Homo sapiens: one gene and its partner. The protein of the gene in region 2 purifies or fractionates together with the protein of the main gene of each other region. This does not show direct contact. Each region holds a gene or a part of one and is shown on either strand. Other genes may lie near its edges.

Evidence for each region. The genes of interacting proteins can lie anywhere in the genome.
Region 1: the proteins of CCDC74A (region 2) and BTBD1 purify together in Homo sapiens (affinity purification with mass spectrometry; one large-scale study listed by BioGRID and IntAct). This does not show direct contact.

What each region holds. Positions count from the first base shown.
Region 1 is NC_000015.10:83,029,238-83,032,891, forward strand, and holds part of BTBD1 (BTB/POZ domain-containing protein 1), read right to left. Parts: intron 1,092-3,654; coding exon 899-1,091; intron 1-898.
Region 2 is NC_000002.12:131,530,884-131,534,316, forward strand, and holds the end of CCDC74A (coiled-coil domain-containing protein 74A), read left to right. Parts: intron 1-697; coding exon of another isoform or gene 698-723; exon of another isoform or gene 724-739; coding exon of another isoform or gene 740-780; coding exon 781-919; intron 920-1,705; coding exon 1,706-1,898; intron 1,899-1,980; coding exon 1,981-2,054; intron 2,055-2,129; coding exon 2,130-2,186; exon of another isoform or gene 2,187-2,191; intron 2,192-2,385; coding exon 2,386-2,515; 3' UTR 2,516-2,783; downstream 2,784-3,433.

The DNA.
Region 1 (3,654 bases), on a different chromosome or scaffold from region 2:
TTATACTGAAGTGCTATTAAATAAATGAAAATCCAAAAGTCATGTTTTGTGAAAACCGGCACTGATTCTATTTTGACATTCAACCTAAAGAAACACAGTACAGCAAAGACAATTTCTTCAACAGGATTATACGCATGCATTTTTCAAGATTCTTGATTTTTTTCTCAAGGCTTTTATAAATGTATACTGAGATACTTTCCCTGCAACATCTATGCAAAGAAAAAACTCACACTAAACATAGTAAGGTTACATTTATTAATTGTAGCCCTAAGCCTGTAAAAATAACGTTTGATCAATTAAGGTCTAGAACTCAGCCCACTGGCAGTGGTGATCCAAACAAAAATCATGTAACAGCTGGGCGTGGTGGCTCACCCCTGTAACCCCAGCACTTTGGAAGGCTGAAGCAGGTGGATCACTTGAGGTCAGTAGTTCGAGACCAGCCTGGACAACATGGTGAAACCCCGTCTCTACTAAAAATCCAAAAAGATTAGCTGGGCGTGGTGATGCATGCCTTACAGGTTACTCAGGAGGCTGAGGTGGGAGGATCGCTTGAACCCAGAAGGCGGAGGTTGCAGTGTGAGAGATCCCACCACTGCACTCCAGCCTGAGTGACAGAGCGACTCCATCTTGGGGAAAAACAAAAAAATCACGTAACAGAAGGTCCAACCCAATCCTTTCTTACTCTATTTTTTTCTTAAGAAGTCACCCTCACTCATAAATCAGTGAGGAGGGCAGGATGCCTCAGTGACTTCTTGACTCCTATATTAACTTAACTTAAAAGTGTATTAAATGAAGTATAAAATGAAATGTTGGTTAATTATCTCCCATAATATATAAAAAAGGCCAAATGGTAACTGCTACCCCCACTCTACCCCCGCATCCCCAATATAACAGATACCTGATTCGATCACTCGTCCCACTGTAACCCCAGCGGCTTTCTACTTGCTGGAATCTATTGATGCAGCATTCCTTTCCCCTGAGACAGCATCTTGGTCGGTCAATGTATTCAACTCGGGGTTTAGGGTTGACAGTAAAATGAAGAAAGAGGTTTACCACTTCACGATCTGACAAAATTCCAGATTGAGCAGGACCTGTGGAAATAAAAACATAAGCCTAAAAAAAGGAATTTGATTTCAATTCCTAACTTTGGAATTCACTTAACGTAAATTCAAATCTAGAGGACGTAACATAAAAATAGGGGAAAAAAATCTTAGCATATATAATTTTTGCATATATTTTAAGGTTTCAATAAATCCATTTGAGGTTAAACACATTAATTAAAATGTTAAAAGCATTAATTAGTCAAAACTTAGATCCAGGAATAAATGCTATTCCTCATGGATGCCAGGAATCCTCCTTTCTCACCTTATACAAAAATCAACTCAAGATGGATCAAAGACTTAAATCTAAGAAACCATAAAAATTCTAGAAGATAGCATCAAAAAAACTCTTCAAGACATTGGCTTAGGTAAAGAATTCATGACTAAGAACCCAAAAGCAAATGCAACAAAAACAAAAACAAATGAATGAGACCTAATTAAACTAAAAAGCTTCTGCATAGCAAAATAAATAATCAGCAGAGCAAACAGACAACCCACAGAGTGGGAGAAAATATTTGCAAACTATGCATCCAACAAAGGACTAATATCCAGAATCTACAACTCAAATCAGCAAGAAAAAAAAAACAAATAATCCCAGCACAAAGTGGGCAAAGGACATGAAGAGACAATTCTCAAAGGAAGCTATACATACGTGTGCATGTGTCTTTATAGCAGCATGATTTATAATCCTTTGGGTATATACTCAGTAATGGGACGGCTGGGTCAAATGGTATTTCTAGTTCTAGATCCTTGAGGAATCGCCACACTATCTTCCACAATGGTTGAACTAGTTTACAGCCCCACCAACAGTGTAAAAGTGTTCCTATTTCTCCACATCCTCTCCAGCATCTGTTGTTTTCTGACTTTTTAATGATCACCATTCTAACTGGTGTGAGACGGTATCTCATTGTGGTTTTGATTTGCATTTTGCTGATGGCCAGTGATGATGAGCACTTTTTCATGTGTCTGTTGGCTGCATAAATGTCTTCTTTTGAGAAGTGTCTGTTCATATCCTTCGCCCAGCAGACTTGGAACCAACCCAAATGTCCATCAATGATAGACTGGATTAAGAAAATGTGGTACATATACACCATGGAATACTATGCAGCCATAAAAAATGATGAGTTCGTGTCCTTTATAGGGACATGGATGGAGGTGGAGACCATCATTCTCAGTAAACTATCACAAGGACAAAATACCAAACACCGCATGTTCTCACTCATAGGTGCGAACTGAACAGTGAGAACACTTGGACACAGGAAGGGGAACATCACATACCGGGGCCTGCTGTGGGGCAGCGGGAGGGGGAAGGGATAGCATTAGGAGATATACCTAATGTAAATGACAAGTTAATGGGTGTAGCATACTAACATGGCACACGTATACGTATGTAACAAACCTGCACGTTGTGCACATGTACCCTAGAACTTAAAGTATAATTAAAAAAAAAAAGAAGATATACAAGCGGCCAATACACATAAGAAAAAATGCTCATCACTGATTATCATACATAGGCAAATTAAAACCACAATAAGGTACCACCTTACTCCTGCAAGAATGGCCATAATTAAAAAATAAAAAAAGAAAAATAGATGTTGGCGTGAATATGGTGAAAAGGGAACTCTTTTACACTGCTGGTGGGAATGTAAACTAGTACAACCACTAAGGAAAACAGTATGGAGATTCCTTAAAGAACTAAAAAGGACTGGGGGTGGTGGCTCATGCCTGTAATCCCAGCACTTTGGGAGGCCGAGGCAGGCAGATCCCAAGGTCAGGAGTTTGAAACCAGCCTGACCAACATGGTGAAACCCCATCTCTAACAAAAATACAAAAATTAGTTGGGTGCAGTGATGTGCGCCTGTAGTCCCAGCTACTCGGGAGGCTGAGGCAGGAGAATCACTGGAACCTGCGAGGCAGAAGTTACAGTGAGCCGAGATCGCACTACTGCACTCCAGCCTGGGCAACACAGCGAGACTCTGTCTCCAAAAAAAAAAAAGAACTAAAATTAGAACTACCATTTGATCCAGCAATTCCACCACTGGATACCTACCCAAAGGAAAATAAGTCATTACATGAAAAAGATACTTGCACGTACATGTTTATAGCAGCACTACCAACTGCAAAAATATGGAGCCAACCTAAATGCCCATCAACCAACAACTGGATGAAGAAAATGTGGTATACATACACCATGGAATACTACTCAGCCATAAAATGGAACGAAACAAAGGCTTTTGCAGCAACTTGGATGAACTTGGAGGCCATTATTCTAAGTGAAGTAACTCAGGAATGGAAAACCAAATACCATATGGTCTTACTTATAAGTGGGAGCTAAGAAACTATGAGGAGGCAAAGGCCTAAGAATGATATAATGAACTTTGGGGACTTGGGGGGAATGGTAGGAGGGAGGTGAGCGATAAAAGCCTACATGTTTGGTACCATTCCCCAACATGGTGAAACCCCATCTCTACTAAAAACACAAAATTTAGCCAAGGGCGGTGGTGGGTGCCTGTGATCCTAGCTACTAAGGAGGCTGAGGCAGGAGAATCACTTG
Region 2 (3,433 bases):
CCTGGGTGGCCTCTAGGGGTGCTGACCAGGCGCCCTCTGCTGGGCCAAGCTCCAGGATTTGGGGATGAAGGTGCAGCTGAAAAGAGCCCTGCAAGCTGAAGCCACCGGGAGGGGATTAAGGGGGGGTGGGCAGGACCAGGGACCAGTCACAGGGCAGTAAGGCCTCACAGCAGGCACCCCAGGGCGGGGCAGCAAGCAGGCAGGAGGGGCCTCCCCGGGTGGCCTTCTAGGGAGGATGTACCCTGGCTGCCCAGCAGCAGCCCTGCTTGGCCGTGTCCCTGCCACAAGCAGGCAGGACACAGGAGGGATGGCACTGCCCACGGAGCCCTGGGCTCATGGCACCTTCTGCAGAGTGAGCCGGGAGCAGAGAGCCTCTTTTCCCCACTCTGTGAGGCCGGGCATTTTCCTCAGCCCTGCCCTAACCCCCACCATTCCTGTGATGGGCCCAGGTGCTAGACGGGCCTTGTCCTTGCCGAGGAAACCCATGCAGGCTGGGTCCCAAGCCTCTCATGCAGTTTCATTTTACCCAAGATGGGGCCAGCTTCCACTATGTTGATTGTTCTAGAGTGTTCACAGGCACCACCCATGGGCTTCACCCTCAGAACCACATTGATTCCCCCCAGAACCCTCCAAGGCAGGCTTCCCTTTACAGAGGAGGAAACTGAGGCAGGGACAGGGGCTTCTTGGGTACACACAGCTGTTCCTGGAAAACTTGGGCGGTGACTGTTGGTGCCTGCAGTGACCGGCCTTGTAGGGTCTGACTTGCAGCCAACTCTCAAGGCAAGGCCAGGCCCCAGCCCGGCTCCTTCAACAAGCAAGATTCAAAAGCTGACGTCTCCCAGAAGGCGGACCTGGAAGAGGAGCCCCTACTTCACAACAGCAAGCTGGACAAAGTTCCTGGGGTACAAGGGCAGGCCAGGTAAGGCTTGGGTGTTCCTGGGGTGCAAGGGCAGGCCAGGTAAGTCTTGCCTGCACCCTAAGGGCCCCATGACTACATTTACTAGGCTCACGCCCTGCAGTCAGCCAACTGCTCTGCCCCTAGCTCCAGGGGCCTGTCTCCTGGGCTCATGATAGCAGATGACGGCCACGCTCTACCCATCGGTGGGCGCTGTCTTCCTCCCTTCCCCTGGGGGTCCTGCAGAGTACCTGTGCTGACCTGAGCCCACGAGGGGGGCCAGTAGCAGCCCCTAAACCACTTCCTCAGAGAAAAGTAAAGTAATATTCTTACCAAGAGAAGGCTTGCTGCCCCTGGCCACAGCCTGCCTTTGGAGGGCACTAGGCCAGCAGGTCAGAGTAGGAACAGGTTCTGGTGATCCCTGAGTTTGCGGGACTGCCCTGAGATGCTACAGAGTGCACACTTTCAGCAGCGCAACCAGCAGGACAGGCTCCTGCATCTGCACATCCCAAGACCAGGCCTGGAGCAAGATGCCCCACTGGGTGTGGGGTCACGATCAAGAGCAGCCTGGCAGCTAGCTGGTCACCCACTGAAGCCCATCTGACCCTTAGGGCACCTTCAGAGGGGAGAAAGGGACAGGCCCCAGTCCCAGAGACCCCCACCTGGTGCCCAGAGCACCCTGCTCAGTGGGAGAGGGGAACCAGGCCCTCTTCCCCACATTGGCCTGGGCGCTGCCTGGGGAGGTATGCTGGGTGGGTGGTTAGACGCACCTGGGCAGGTCACCTCTGGCTGCTGCAATGACTGTTTCAGAAAGGAGAAAGCAGAGGCCTCTAATGCAGGAGCTGCCTGTATGGGGAACAGCCAGCACCAGGGCAGGCAGATGGGGGCGGGGGCACACCCCCCAATGATCCTGCCCCTTCCCCTGCGAAAGCCCACCACACTTAGGCAGTGCGAAGTGCTCATCCGCGAGCTGTGGAATACCAACCTCCTGCAGACCCAAGAGGTGAGGCCCTGGGTGGTGGGGGTGGCCCTGGGCAGTCTGGCACCGCCACAGGCCCCACCATGCCCCTGCCCCTGCCTTTCAGCTGCGGCACCTCAAGTCCCTCCTGGAAGGGAGCCAGAGGCCCCAGGCAGCCCCGGAGGAAGCTAGCTTTCCCAGGTGAGTGCCTGGTGCACCCCTGCCCCATCCCTGGGGTCCTATCCACAGCTCACTGCTGACTCTTCCTTCACCCAGGGACCAAGAAGCCACGCATTTCCCCAAGGTCTCCACCAAGAGCCTCTCCAAGAAATGGTAAGTCCCACAGGCATGGGGACAGTGGGGCAGCCCTGCAGCCTGGGCCCCAGGGAGGGAGTGGGGAAGGGAGGGTGGCAGCGCAGAAGCAGAGCTCGCTGAGGCCTCTCTGTGCCCCCGTGAGGGCCATGCAGGCCGCACTCCCCACACACTCCACTCCCGGGGATGCTCACGGTGACAGTCCCTCTACCCGCCCCAGCCTGAGCCCACCTGTGGCGGAGCGTGCCATCCTGCCCGCACTGAAGCAGACCCCGAAGAACAACTTTGCCGAGAGGCAGAAGAGGCTGCAGGCAATGCAGAAACGGCGCCTGCATCGCTCAGTGCTTTGAGCCACCCCAATCTGGTCAGTGCCAGGCCCACCAACCTGCAGCTGGAGACTGGCTCTCTATAGCATTTCCTGATACTTCCGCTACTTTTAGGCCTGGCTAAATTCCAAGACAGATAACACTCAAGATAGATAAAGTACTTGATCTCCAAACTGACAAACTGTTTATTTTCTAGCTGTTATTTTGCTATTTGGCATTTACATAAAAGCACACGATGAAGCAGGTATCGCCTTACCTGTTGAAACTGAAAATAAAGCTTGTTTATTTCCAAGTTGTGTGCCTGGCTCCTCACTGGCTATCAGGCGTCGCGTCCCTTCCCAGTCCCAGCCCTTGGCCTCTAGCCCAGGCCCTGCTGTCTGCAGGGACCTGCCTGGGCAGCCCAGTCTTGCGCATCCTGGGACCTGCCAGCGGCCCTGGGAGATAGGCATTGGCAGAGCCATGCACATCCTCCCTGGAAGCGGGAGGGCTTTTCTGGTCCCCTGGCTGGGCTGGAGCTGCGTTCCAAACACATGATCACTCTGTCTCTTGCCCACACTGCACACTCCTGGGGGCAAGAGGCTGTCCTCTCCTGCCCTGACACAGCACCGCAGACAGGGGGTCCAGCCAGGCTCGCCCTCCTCCTCGGAGGGCTGTCTCGAGTGCTGTGGCCATGCCCACACCACCCCTTCCGCCATAGCACAGCCATGTCCATGTCGGGGGTGGGGTGGCCAGCTTACTGCCCACCCTCAGCCAGCCACACAGTCTTCCCAGGCCCACGGCCCCACTTCGTTGGCATTAATCTCAGCCTCTTCCTGCTTCAGGGAGCAGAACTTTGCCAGGAAGCTGGGGATGAACCAGGCCAAGGAATGGGACAGTGTGTCAGAAAGGACAGCCCAGGCCCGGGGGCTTACAGCATCCTAACAGGACAGCAGGCCCAGTTTC